4 linked regions of the Homo sapiens genome follow. The protein of the gene in region 2 purifies or fractionates together with the protein of the main gene of each other region. This does not show direct contact. Each region holds a gene or a part of one and is shown on either strand. Other genes may lie near its edges.

Region 1 (3,082 bases), on a different chromosome or scaffold from region 2:
GGCCCTCACCCAGCCAAGGTGGATGTAAGGAGGAGAGGCTGGTTGTGGTCCAGGCACAGACACAGTCTCTAGGGAGCATTCCACGCCTGCAGAGAGCAAGTGGCCCAGGGACCTTCGCCCAGTGATTATATGAGGCTTTTTCCAGGGACATTTCTGCCTGTCCGCAGAGTTGAGGGCCCTGCACTTGATTGTGGAGCTGGAGGGTGTGCAGTGTAGGCCAAGTGGGGCAGCTCATTGTCCCCCAACACAACAGGAGCTCCCGGATCAGGGCAAGTCAGGAACATGATGGAAACCAGGTATGGCCAGGACCTCAGGATACCTGGGTTCATATCCTGATTCCATTACTCGCTTGTTTGCTGACTTTGGACAAGGAGTAGACTCTATTTTTTTTTTTTAATTAAATAAGGGGATGGGACTAGATTGTGTCTAAGGATCTATAAACCTGACCACATATATTAGGATTCTTTATATTGTAAGAGACAGAGACCAAATTAAAATTAGCATAAGCAAACAAAGGGAATTAATTGGCCCATGTAACAAAATTATCTGGTTTCTGGCATATCTAGATTCCTCTCTCTCTCTGAGCTTTCAGCTTCTTTCCCTGTGTTGGTCTCCTTTTCTCCTGCTAAAGATGGGCTTTCTCTCCTTGGTGGGAAACACAGTCCATGGCCACCTCCAATTAATTTCATAGCATGTTGGCCCAAGAAACAAGGCTCCACTCTCAGAAATCCCAAGGGAGATTCTAAGTGGCCCAATTTGGGTCATGTGCCACCTCGGTCCAATCATAGGCTGGGCCAGTGGCACATAATGACCTCAATATCAGACCAATTGGTGGTTCCACCAGAATTATACAATAGAGTGGAAAAGGAATTATTCCCCAAGAGAAGGAGATCACTAAAGAGACTAGAAAAGAAAAATGTCCACTCTAGTATGATTATCAGATTTTGGCCTAGTATAAAAGGACCTTATTTCTTCCTCTGTACTGATTATAAACTTGAGCGGTCCAAGCCCCACTCTGATTCTGTAACCTCACTTTCTCCCAGCACTACAGGGGCCAAATATCTATTTGACTCTGGTAGTTCCTTCAGATTTGGGCTCTGACACCATTTGTAGCCTTAAAACAAGTCCCATAATTCCTTTGAAACTTTATTTCCTGCTCTGACCATTGGGGAATTTGTGCTAATTGGTATGATTTTAAAGAACTGCTCATTTTAAAGAATGCTTGATGCTCGAAATAACAAAACACAGGAAACAGCCTAAAAGTTCGCTAGGGGACAGGTTGAAAAGTTATAATGCATTCATATAATGGAATACTATGCTGATGCAAAAAAGAATCAGGACACCCATATATGCCTAACATAGAAAGATCTCCAAGATAGATGTTTGGGGGAAGAGCAAAGTGTAGAGCAGGGGTGTCCAGTCCTTTGGCTTCCTTGGGCCACAATGGAAGAAGAATTCTCTTGGGCCACACATAAAATATACTAACACTAATGATAGCTGATGAGCTTTAAAAAAAATTTCAAAAAAAATCTCAAAATGTTTTATGAAAGTTTACGAATTTATATTAGGCCACATTCAAAGCTGTCATGGGCCGTGGGTTGGACAAGCTTGGTGTAATGTGTTTGAAATTTTAACCATTTGCGTTTTAAAAGGTCATGGGGTGAAATATATTAGCTTGAATATGCCTGGTGAATATGCATTTTTAAGTCCCTGTAAAGATACACAAGAAACTGGCCAGGTGCAGTGGCTCACGCTTGTAATTCCGGCACTTTGGGAAGCCAAGACAGGCAGATTGCTCCAGTCCAGGAGTTCAAGACCAGCCTAGGCAATATAGTGAGACCCTGCCTCTACAAAAAATAAAAAAATTAGCCAGGCATGGTGGCATGTGCCTGTAGTCCCAGCTACTAGGGAGGCTGAAGCAGGAAGATTGTTTGAGCCCAGGAGGTGGAGTTTGCAGTAAGCCGATATCGCGCCACTGCACTCCAACTTCGGCGCTAGAGCGAGACCATGACTTAAAAAAAAAAAAAAAAAAAGATACACAAGAAACTAACAACAGTTCTTTTGGGAACAAGGGTGGAAACTGGGGAGATGGACAGGTATAGGAGGGAGACTTCCCTGAATGCCTTTTTGTACCTTTGAATCTTTAAATCATGTTAGATATTATTGATTTAAAAAAAATTGTTTTTCAAAAAAAGGAAAAATTGCTTAAACAAAGCACATACAAAGTCTCCTTCAGATGCAGAGCTGTATAAAAATACTCTCAGAGAATTACTGTAATCAACGTCAAATACACAAAAACTGATGATGCTGTTTTCTTACTTAGGCACTAAAAGAAGAAATCAAAGAGATGCATGGATTGCGGATATTTACCTCTGTCCCCAAACGCTGACCACGCCCTGGCTGCATAGATGCTGCTGCTTAAGACCTTGGATGAACTTCACTGACATCATTCTTCCCTAAGCAGTCACCAAAAAATTTATATATTTTGCTCATATACATTTCCATATTATAATTATAGAAGATGTATAATCTATTTAGATGTTAATTAAAGGAAACAAACAACTGAAGCTTTTGAAGGGTCATTAGTAATGTTTCAGGTTCCTTTATTTTGGCCAAAGGGGTCTTGTCTTTAGACAGTTCTGTCCTGCTACAGAGAGAGAATGCAGTGCCAGCTTTTTGTCTTTTGAAGAGGTTTTCCTGTTTCTTCCCCTCCACGAAACTGCTCAGGCCTCTTCATCTTACTGAAACAAAGAAAAGATCCTTTACTATTGCTGTTCTTTTCGTTTATCATTCTTTTCTTCCCCCTCTAAACTTCTTACATGAATGATCTTGGACCCTCAATTTCTTATGCTCTGAAATGGACTCTGAAAATTTGGGGGTGCCAGGATCCGGGTTCTTTTCCTGTGTTTGAAGATCCTCCACCCTTTGATTCTTGGTAGGAGGCAGAGCCCACCTCCCACGACAGAAGCTGAAAAGGCTTACTTTCCCTGCCTCCCTCACAGCTGAGGCACAGGCAGATATTCCAGACTCAGCCAATCAGATGGACCTGCCCTGAACTTGGGAGCAAGTCACACCGAGGAGC
Region 2 (4,258 bases):
AAGGTTTAACAACTTGAACTCCAAGAGGAAAAAAAAGCTCTGATGTAGCATTTGCCAATTTCCATGGTGTTATTATTCCCACCATGGCTTATTTCAATCTAAAAAATGTGTTGCCACTGAACACGGAGTTAGGAAGAGATATGCACAAATGCTAGTATAAACCAGCTCTGAAACCACTGGCTCCTTGGGACACTTACTATCAATGGCCTAACTCCTCATTTTAAAGTCAAAGACACTGAGACCCAGAGAAAGTGTCTTAACCCGAGGCTGGCCCAGTGACTGGCACCAGGTTGGAGGTAATTTCCCTGTGAATCTGGCTGCCTCACAGGAAATTACTTCCTATGTAGAAGGAAGAGTGGGGGAAAGAAGGCAAAGGAAGTTCTTTGCCAGGCACGTGGTGATACACGTTGGTTTTTATCATCATCTTCACAGTGTGGGACTGGTTTCTTCAGCACATGCCTTTGAAGCACACTTTAGGTAGGGGGTACTGCTCTTCACACAGGACCAGCTTTCATGTACACACTCTGACTATATAATAGACTATCTCAATTAACCAGCAGTTATCAAAGCTATCAGACCATAATTGCCAGAAAGACAGGGACTGCATCTTTTGTGCTCACTACTTTCCTGGCATCCCGCACATAACTGGACACATGAGAAATAGGTGGCCAATAAAAATCTACTGAAAGAATGAAGGAATGAGACCCCACCATCAAAGTGGAATTTTTTAATACAAAGAACACAGCAGGTGCTCAGAGTTTAGATCCCATTTCCTTCTCCTGTGGACTTCTCCTCCTCCTCACCTGTGGACTGTGCAACACACACAACACGCTCATGTGCATGCAACATTTCTCAAGTATCGGCTGTAGCATTTAAACTGATCCATCAGAGCACAAGAGGCTCTATGGATGAAGGAACAAAAGGGAGGATGGAGTTAGAAAATTTCTTCCTCCCAAATATATACACATAACATCTGTCTTGAACTTGTTCTGACAAGGCACGAAGCTAAGGAAAGAGTCCCGTGAAGGACCTCACCTACCACACTCCAGGATGGTGGAAACTGCTTTTTGACAGGGGCTGAGGAAGCACCACTCAGAGTGACACCCTCTGAAAGTGGAAAGTGAAAGAACGTCAAGACTGGAAATCATTATTCCAATAAACTCAAGGCTAATAACCATGCAACTGCAAACAGAAATGAACACGTGCAAGGGAAGGCAAAAGCATGCCTCCTTGTTCTTTTGGAAATAACTTCCTGACTACTTGGTAACTCTCACAGGAACCCCTACACACTTGGCATGGTCTCCCCACTGGCACTTTTGTGAGCCTACAGGTCCTGTTTGCCACATCACTGTTGTAATCCTGATGCACAGACAGGTCAGCTCTGCAAGCACAGAGACAACCAAAGGCATGTGCGAAGCCTTGCTGACTTTTCAGGAGGCTGGCAAGGTTCATCACAGCCTCACGTGGGGACCTAGTACATGGTTTCCAAAGTGAGATCAAACTTGGTTCCAGATACCAGAGGTTAATACTGTCCATGGCATGAGGTGGTGTGTGTTCCCAATCAGAGGAAGGATCACAAACAAGAAGCAGGCCCAATGAATGAAGCCTCTGAAGCATTTCCTACACCAGCATCCTCAAAGTGTGGTGCAGAGAACTCCTAGGGATCTCCAAAGTCAAAACCATTTTCCTAGTAATAAAATGTTACTTGCTTTTTTTCATTCACACATTTTCAGGAGTATACAGTGGAGGTCTCAAGAGGCTACATGATATGTGATATTGCAACAGACTGCAGAAGCAGCTATCAGAATCCAGCTGTCTTCAATTACGCTTGACATCAAAGAGATTTGCAAAAATGTAAAACAATGCCACTCTTCTCAATCATTTTCTGTTTTGGGAAATATAGTTCTTTTTCATAAAAATAGGCAATGTTAAGATATAATTAGTTCACTATTCTTTTTAAATGAATTATTATAGTACAAATTTCTCAGTCTTACTTACATATTATAAATATGGATAGATATAACACACATAAAAGCTCCTTAAGATACTAATTTTTAAGAGTGTAAAGGAGTACTGAGTACCAGAAAAGTTTGGGGACTTCTGTCCTAGAGGTTGTCCCCCAGGGAAGAGAGTTACATGTGTTGCAAGAAGGAAGATGCCATTATGATGTGCTAGCTGAATCTAGAAAAAAATGACTTGGTCATAACTGCAGCCCAAGCTCCTTTCTAGATCTCTGAATCTATCATGGTGGGCTCTGTGTTCAAGCCTCCCACGAAGGGTCTCTTCCCCCTCATCCCATTTTCCCTTTACCCCTTGGAGTGGATTCCCGGATCTGCCCGCACAACTTTAGCAAGGGTTTCCCTATCCAGCCAGCCGGGCCTGGGCGAGGACTCCCAGTGCGGGCCTCACACCCTCGGGGTTAGGACTCCCAGGACTGGCCGCACACCCTAGGCAAGGACTTTCAGGACAGCACGCACAGCCAAGGCTAAGAAGGGTCTAGGAAAGCCACTTCCAATCCCTGGTTTCTCTCCCCGGCATGACATAGACTGGGGACAGGGTGGAGACGTCAGTCGCCAGAAACACGTCCCCGATTCTCCTCTCAGCCTCCCCAAGCTCGCCTCCGTGTCCCCCGTGCCGCCACTGCCTCGGGCACCTCGGTAAAGGCCCGCACCGACTCTCGAGGGATACAGGGTGGACGGCGCTCCCGCCTGGGGACGTGGGTCGGGCCGCGTCGGTACTCACCTCCGACTGCACGGCGGGGCTCCCGCGACCGGCGAACCTGACCCAAGCAGCGGGACGCGTTCCCGTGCGCTGCGCGGTTCCAGCTGCCGCCTCCACGCTCCGCCCCCTCTCGCCCCCGGGGCCGCCGCGCGATGGGCGGAGCAGGGGCGGGAAGGGCGGAGCAGGGGCGGGACGGACGGGCAGCTAGCCGAAGAAGGGGCGGAGCCTGCGGGCGCCCCCGCGGGCCTGGAGGACTTCGCCCCGGGCTGGAGGCTAGGGTTGCGAAGGGCTCCTCCGCTGGAAGTGGGAGGGCTGATCCCTCGGCCCGGGTCCGCTTCTGCCAGCATGGGACCTGGGACGAGGGTGTCTGTTGCTCACTTTGGAGCTTAGCATGTGACTCCCCAGCCGGCGTTAGGAAGTGACCAAAGGGTGGGGAAGAAATGGAATTATTTTTAAAAAATGATTTGGCCATAACTGGAGAGGCTTCATGTACGTGTGGTCACTTGGCCCGCCTCCCTTCTCACTTTGTCCGTCCCCACCCTACCCACCCTCTCCACCCTCGCCTTAATTCTTTGCGCAAAGCCTGCCAAGTGGACATCGGAGTCACGCTGTCAGAATAGGACTTCAGCATTTCCGTGGCAAAAGTTCTATATGTAGATTTCCTTGGACATGTAACAACACTTTCTAATGCACGATGTTCACCGGTCTGAAGTCGGAGAAATGGCTGGGAGATGGCAGCAAGTGGGCTTTCACAAGATCTGCTTTTCATGTTGGTAGGAGTTGTGCCCTCTTGGGTGAATGGCGTTCAAAGAAGTGATTAGATCTTTCTAGATGAAAGGTGGTGAGGTTTTCCTGCCCAAATTATTTGGAAAGTTACTGTAGTTTTCTGAATAAGCAGCTTATAGGATGAGTAAACAATAGCCAGTACTAATAGCCCCCCTGCTACTTTATACTGCCCTCCTATTCTGCACAAAGCCCTGTGATCGACTCTTTCCACGTTATTCAGTTCAGCTCTTCCAACCACCTTACAAGTAAAGAATATTACCCGTCTTTGCAGGTGTGCAATGCGCAACAGCTGAGACTCAGTCCTTAGGTTGGTTTGACACCAAAGCCTACACCTTCCCTGTCATACTGCACTATAGGGTACAACTATCGTCTAGTTATATTTAACTTTGAAATATAAATACTTATATTTATTTTGAAAGGGGAAGTAACTGTATTTCCAATATGAGAGGAGACTGTTTTCCCACCCACTTCCTAAATCCTTTCCATTCACATTAGTAATTAAATTTTCTTTGAATGTCCACCATATGGCAGAGGTGCACCACAATCCCTGAAAAATCATGCTCCAGTCCCCTTGGGAGGTAGGGAGAGTAGGGGCAAGGTGAGAGTGAGTAGAAGGCTGGGGAAGTCCGATGAGGACACATCCAGCTAAATTGCGATTCTTAATGAGGCAGCCATTCGGAAAGCAAAGTATCTAATGTTCAATGATAACATCCGTGTAACTGAGAATCCTTCGCAGAAAACAATCAAATCA
Region 3 (3,569 bases), on a different chromosome or scaffold from region 2:
AAAACAAAACAAAACAAAACAAAACAAAACAAAACAAAACATAAGTTACCATCTTCCCAGAATGTGCCCCTCTACCTCCTACCCCAAACAACCTCAGATCCAATTTCTATCATCACAGATTCGTTTTGCCTCTTATAGAACATCATATAAATGGAGCCAAATAGTATATAACCTTTTGTGTCTGGCTTCTTTTGCTTAGTGTTTTTGAAGTTCATCCATGTTGCTGTGTTTATCAGTTGTTTGTTCCTTTTCTTTTTTAACTTTTTTTTGCAGAGACGGGGGTCTCGCTATGTTGACCAGGCTGCTCTCGAACTACTGGTCTTAGGCGATCCTCCCACAGCAGAGCCTCCCTAAGTGTTGGGATTATGGGCTTGAGCCAGTCAGTGTTCAGCCTGGTTTCTTCCTTTTCATTGCTGAGTGGTTTCTACTATATAAATAAACCATTACAAATTGATCCATTGACAGGCTATAAATATTTGGGTTGTTTCGAGATTTCAGCTATTACGAATAATTTGTCCATTTGAATAAAAATCTTTTTTTGTGGACGTTTTCAAGTCTCTCAAGTGAGTATCTGGGAATGGACTTATTGGATCACACGTCTCTACCTTGATAAGAAACTACCAGACTGTTTTCTAGTGTGGTGGTGCCATTTTACACTCCCGGCAGCAAGGTAAGAGCTCCACAGCCTCTCTAACACTCAGCCGCTCTAGGGGGTTTGTGTCACTATCTCATTGTGACTTCATCTGCACTGATTTCCCTAACTAGAGGTGTTGAGCACCTTTTCGTGTTTATCACCTACATCTTTTTTTGGAAGTGTCTGTTCAAATCTCGTGCCCACTTTTTAAATTAGGGTGTTCACCACTTTTCTACAATCTCCTACCTAAACCCTGCAGTTAGTTTCCTGAACCTCAGGGTAAGACCCAGATTTGGCCCAGTTCATGGAATTGTGGGCAGGCCCTCACCAGCCTGTCTCCAGACAGCCTCCAATTCACAATTTCCATCCACAGTGTTTCCAACTGCTCCACATCTCCAAGCCCTTGGACGTGCTCTATCTATTCTAACAGGAATGCCCCTTCCGAGCCTTCTCCATCCTACCCAACCCAACCTGGTGTCCCTCCATGAGGAAGTCTGCCTTCCTCATGTGTCTGCCACAGCAGGTTCAGCCTCTCCTATGTGCTCCTTCCTTCCTAAGAGACTCAATATTCCTTAAAGGCGGAGACCGTTGCCTTTTCATCCATCTCTCATCCTCTGCCACCTGACAAACACATGGCAGCCACAGACTAACTCCAAGTGGATAAAATAAATGAATGATGGAAAGAACTAGCAAATAAGAAGTCAGGGCTGTGTAATGGGATTTAAATTCTTAAAACTCGTACAACAGGCCATTCTGCAGGAACCTGTCCAGCAGCACAAAGCAAACTAAACTCTCACGCTGAGAAACACCTGGGAAGTAGAAAGCAAACCCCAATGTGGGGACAGCTACATGGGGCCTGTTTAACAACCTCAGCACTGAGCCCCAACTTTACCTCTGACCTTCATCTCTTCCTGAAAAGCTTCAGCTGATGGGCCAGGAAGAAAAGGAATAAAGGGGACAGGCAGAAGGGAGGGTTTAACGACAGCTGACATAGTGCTTACCATATGCCAGGCATAATTCTCAGCACTTTGTATTCATGAACTTCTTACAACAACCCTAGGAGGAAGGCACCATCACCATCCCTTTTTAACAATGTGGAAACTGAGGCACAAAGAGGGTTAAGTAAGTTGTCTAGGTCTCACCGCTTGTAGATGACAGAGCTAGAATCTGAGCCCTGGTCACCGGGCTCAGGCATCCATGTTTTTTTTTTTTTTTTTTTTTTTTTTAGACAGAGTCTCACTCTGTTGCCCAGGCTGGAGTGCAGAGGTGCAATCTCGGCTCACTGCAACCTCCACCTCCCAGGTTCAAGCAATTCTCCTGCCTCAGCCTCCCAAGTAGCTAGGACTACAGGCACATGCCACCATGCCTGGCTAATGTTTTGTATTGTAAGTAGAGACAGGGTTTCACCGTGTTAGCCAGAACGGTCTCAATCTCCTGACCTCGTGATCTGCCCACCTCGGCCTCCCAAAGTGCTGGGATTACAGGCATGAGCCAACGCGCCTAGCCACGGCATCCATGCTCTTAACCATGACACTCTACTGCCACCCACAGACAAGCAGGGCCATGCCCCACCATTCCACCAGCTCAGCTGCTGCCCGCCATGGCACAGACCAGAACACAGTAACTACCATTTACTGAGTGCCTGCCCTGCATCCCAGAGAAACCTCACAGCTCCGTGAGGTCAATACTGTCATTCCCACTCTGCAATAAGTGATAAGCACAGGTTAGGAAAGGCAGCCCACATGCCAACAAAGTCTCCAAGAGCCTCCAGCTATCAACTGTGCAGCATGCCTGTGGTCCATCAGTGGTCCCCATTTCCACAGGGCATTTTATTTGGTTACCTGATAGTCATAGCCAAGAACTCAAGTCTCTCTCACCCTCTCCTCTAGCCATCTCTCCCCTTCATTAATTCCTGAAAATGCTCTACTGTCTTCTCAAAGCCACGAAGCAACCACAAATCTTTTTAATCCTTAAAAAGTAATTCCTTAAAAAGTAATTCTGAGCTCCAAACAGAAAGCAGATATGACACAGCACCTACGAGACTACAGACTGCTTCCCTGCTCATCCTTTGGCTGTACCTGTGCCACCCTCCTTACCTTGATTTCCAATTTGTGGTTGATGGCCAGTGCAGAATGCTCCAGAGCCTTAATGACAGAGGCATAGGAGTCTGAGAACTTCGTGTATTTGCCCACAAGGGCAATAGAGCAGGTCTCCAGCAAGCGATCATATCTATCAAATAAACGTCAAGAAAAACCCAATTACTCAGAAGGTACACGCTATCATGAGACCAAAATAGCTATTTCAAGGGAAAAAAAACCACGTCTGGCCAGGATGAGCTCACGCCCATAATCCTATAATCCCAGCACTTTGAAAGGCTGAGGCGGGGGGATCTTGAGCCCAGGAGTTGGAGGTTACAGTGAGCTGACTGCACCACTGCACTACAGCCTGGGCAACAGTGTGAGACCCTGCCTCAAAAAACCCCCACAAAAAACAACAAAAACACACCTGGGAAGAATATAACGGGAATAGCTATTATCTGAGTTCTGTGTACAGACCAGTAAAGAGGAAGTAATTTTCAGATCAACATGGCAGGCTTTGTAAAGAAAAATTTTTTTTTTGTTTTTGTTTTGAAACTTACAAAGAGTTTCAACGTCTCACACAAATTTGCCTACAAAAAATTTTTTTCATACCAAAGACCAAAAAAAATAACAGACATAGACAATTCACAAGAATTAATGGGGTGAAGGCAAGTGTCAAACAAATTATGGGACATTCACAAAATAGAAAAGTCCACACTCATTAAAAGTTTTCATTGTAAAATATAATAACAGAGCAAAATGCTTATAATGTTTTATGAAAAAGGATGATAAAACTGCCATTCTGATAGCTATATGTAAGCAGACAAAGACTGAAAGGAAAATGTTGAAATGAAAAA
Region 4 (3,101 bases), on a different chromosome or scaffold from region 2:
AGGCTGAGGCAGGAGAATGGCTTGAACCCAGGAGGTGGAGGTTGCAGTGAGCCAAGATCGCACCGCTGCACTCCAGCCTGGGTGACAGAGCGAGACTCCATCTCAAAAAAAAAGACTTTATCCTGAAATCAAAAGTTGTACTGCCAAATAGAATGGCTACACGTTACATCTATTTGAACGCATCATTGCAGCAAATCTATGCTCTCTAAAAGCGACTGGAAGACATGAGTTCTCATATGAGGGTGAGAAGAACACGGGCTCAGACAGTGCGTACTCACTCCCATGACCGTCGGAGTTAAAATGAGGGGGTGACAGTGCTGCAGCTATTCCAGGACCGGTGCTATTTATAGGAGCCTGTTCCAAACCTTAACCCACAGATACCAAATCCACTGAGCACTGTATGCAAAGGGAAACAAGAAACCGCTCTGCCAGGTCTGGTCCCTCGTAAACTCCCCAGATGACAAGCAAGTTATTTAATATGTTCTTTCTATGTTTGGAATGAATCTGTTTCCAAGAATAAAAGCATACAAACAATATCTTTATTACCTGTAATATACTTAAAGAGCAGGGGTCCCCAGTTGGTTAAACATTGAAAACAGTGGGAGAGCTTCAGAATAGAGAAAAATGACTGTGCCTCACCCCTCACTTACTGAGTCAGAATCTGCAGAGAGGGAAGTGCTGAGAGATGTCTTTTTAAAAAGCTCTCCAACTCTCCAGGTGCTTCTGTCCACCAGCCAGATTTGGGCACCGGTGCTGCCCAGCATGCCCCAGGCTTCAGGGTATGGGAGTCGCCCTGGGCTTGGGTCAGGCTGGGGCTCTCTCATTCACCAGGTGTGGGGAGGGGCTTGAGCCTGCATTTCCAGCAAATTCCCAGGTGGGGCTGAGGTTGCTGATCTGCAGTGCTCCATCTCTGGGTGTGTACCTACACACCCGTCACCTTTGTTGTACTGGGCTCAGGTATAAGTTGCAGGGTGCACCGTGTATCCCCGTAGCCCTGCCCTACTCCATGCTGCCCCCAGTCTCAAGTGGTGCTTGAACTTGCCTTCACCAAGGCAGTTCTCGTCTCAGAGTTGAACCCTCCCTGAGGGCCCCCAACAGCCCTCTCCAGGCCTTGTATCAGTAGGAAATGAAAATGCATTAATTGGGAGGGGTTTATCTGGGGTCAAAGGCTCAGGGAGATCATTCTTTTTATTGCCAAGGACCAAGAAACAAAGTGTAGAAATGCTATACACAATGGTCATGAGCTACAAGGTAGGAATGGGGTGCAGGGGAGACGTGGTAACACACAGCACTATTCTGAACGAACTCCAGCTCTCCATTCTAACACTTGAACCAAGGAAAGACAGCAGTCCTTTTTCACTAAGCCTGCAACAGAATGCAAATGTGACTTGGTTTATCAGCTCCCACAGGACAGGCAGCGCAAAAGGCTATTGTAAGCTGGTTTTGGGAGCCCCCATCTCAAACAGAGAGTGGATGCTGAAGGTGGTCCCTGGCCGCCACTGGTGGCTGGTCCCCGGCTTGCTAGGTCCTGGGCATGTCTCGATTCTCAATGATCAGCTTGTCAGTTGAATACAGTTGGCCAATGTGGACCTGAAGGCAAAGAAAGGACACAGGTCAGGAACCGTGGCCCTCTAGCCCCTGGGAAAGGCCAGAAGGAACATTTCCTAACATTTCTAATACAAACGTCGGCCATCCCAGGGCTGCTCCCTTCCGGCAACTGCACTGCGGGGCAAAGCCGGCCACTAGAGCACCATCCAACCCCCGTTTCCCTCACTGTGAGAAGTTACAGAGATCCACACACCCATTCCTCCCCTCTGAAACAGCACAGGAGGCTGCAGCCTGGGACTCGGGGCTGTGCTGAGCTGGGTGACGCCTGCCTGCTGGTGGCAGAGCTGTCAGATGTGTGCCCAGTACCTCCTCTCCTAAGAGGGCTTCCTTCCCTTAGAACTGATTCTCGCATAGGGAAGGGGTTTTAGAACAGTGCAGAAATGGGCGCCGTCTATGCTGGGGTAGGAAAAGCGCTGCATTCAGGGCAATGCAGACACCTGTCCGTGGCCCATCCCGGGTGGGGTCGAGGGCAGTTGTCTGAGTGCCTGCACCTCCTGCCTTCTATCTTTCCTGCCCCCTTCTTTTTAAAGTGTCCTTTTTATTAAGTGTCTTAATGCCCAATGTTTCCACTGTCCCAGGTGGATGCTGGAGCCATCCTCTGGGGCTAGAGCAGGTCTTTCCTCTGCAACAAAGGGTCTTGCCACAGTTTTTCTGTAAAGCATTTCCTGAGTGATACATTTTTAAGAACAAGTGGAATGGGTGAAGGAAGGGCTGATCATTAGCAACTCTATCTGGATTTCAGACCAGTTGGTCACTATCTATGGGTAATTCGGGGTGAGTAACTGCTGTTTAAGCAAACAGAGCAGCCAGGGGTCAACATCCTCATGGTTTTCCTCCCCGATCTTAGTGCTCTATTTCGAAGTGAAGGCCCCGGACAGAAGGCGATCATGTCATTACTACAGCATGTGTTAAAGAGCAGTGCTCTGTCACCAAGGACCGCCGCGCCGTCCATCTGAGGTGTCCTGTTTTCCATGCCATTTGCTCGGTCTTCAGTCTGCCCTTGCACAGAGGTATCTTGAAGGTCCGTGGCATGGATAATAACTAAGTGTTGCGGTGCAAGAGAAAGCGAAGGAAGAGGCGAGAGCAGCACGTCATCTAAGAAGAACGAGAAGTAGACAGTGGAGATATGGGGGATGGGGGGATCTTGCAGGTATTTTTAAATGCAAGTGAATGTCCTAATTAAAAACCAAAAGAGGTAGGTAGGAGTTATGGGAAGGGGGTGTAGAGAATGAGTGCTCCTAACAAGTCACAGTGATGAGCTTTGCTACTGTGTCTTCAGTCGTCCTTTCCTCTCATTAATATAGAGAAGACTTTGGACGCAAGTGGATGGGGAGGGTCTGGGGTGCTGCGTTTCTCGCAACCTGCAGGTAATGCTGATGCTGCTGGTCCACGGGCCACACTTTAGGTGGCAAGGTCGGAAATCATCTTGAGGGCTGTGAGGAGCCGCACTGGTTTTCTCAGGGGCTACGGTACAGTCACGATGAATGCAGCAC

The links.
Region 1: the proteins of ACO1 (region 2) and BOLA3 purify together in Homo sapiens (co-immunoprecipitation; one large-scale study listed by IntAct). This does not show direct contact.
Region 3: the proteins of ACO1 (region 2) and CTPS1 fractionate together in Homo sapiens (co-fractionation; one large-scale study listed by BioGRID). This does not show direct contact.
Region 4: the proteins of ACO1 (region 2) and LYRM4 purify together in Homo sapiens (co-immunoprecipitation; one large-scale study listed by IntAct). This does not show direct contact.

The regions. Positions count from the first base shown.
Region 1 is NC_000002.12:74,134,900-74,137,981, reverse strand, and holds the end of BOLA3 (bolA-like protein 3), read left to right. Parts: intron 1-2,323; coding exon 2,324-2,389; coding exon of another isoform or gene 2,390-2,460; 3' UTR 2,461-2,582; downstream 2,583-3,082. UniProt on the Homo sapiens protein: Acts as a mitochondrial iron-sulfur (Fe-S) cluster assembly factor that facilitates (Fe-S) cluster insertion into a subset of mitochondrial proteins. Probably acts together with NFU1.
Region 2 is NC_000009.12:32,383,220-32,387,477, reverse strand, and holds the start of ACO1 (cytoplasmic aconitate hydratase), read right to left. Parts: upstream 2,836-4,258; 5' UTR 2,743-2,835; intron 1,108-2,742; exon of another isoform or gene 1,036-1,107; intron 1-1,035. UniProt on the Homo sapiens protein: Bifunctional iron sensor that switches between 2 activities depending on iron availability. Iron deprivation, promotes its mRNA binding activity through which it regulates the expression of genes involved in iron uptake, sequestration and utilization.
Region 3 is NC_000001.11:40,996,688-41,000,256, reverse strand, and holds part of CTPS1 (CTP synthase 1), read right to left. Parts: intron 2,864-3,569; coding exon 2,731-2,863; intron 428-2,730; coding exon of another isoform or gene 425-427; exon of another isoform or gene 1-424. UniProt on the Homo sapiens protein: This enzyme is involved in the de novo synthesis of CTP, a precursor of DNA, RNA and phospholipids. Catalyzes the ATP-dependent amination of UTP to CTP with either L-glutamine or ammonia as a source of nitrogen.
Region 4 is NC_000006.12:5,107,902-5,111,002, forward strand, and holds the end of LYRM4 (LYR motif-containing protein 4), read right to left. Parts: intron 1,591-3,101; coding exon 1,522-1,590; 3' UTR 518-1,521; downstream 1-517.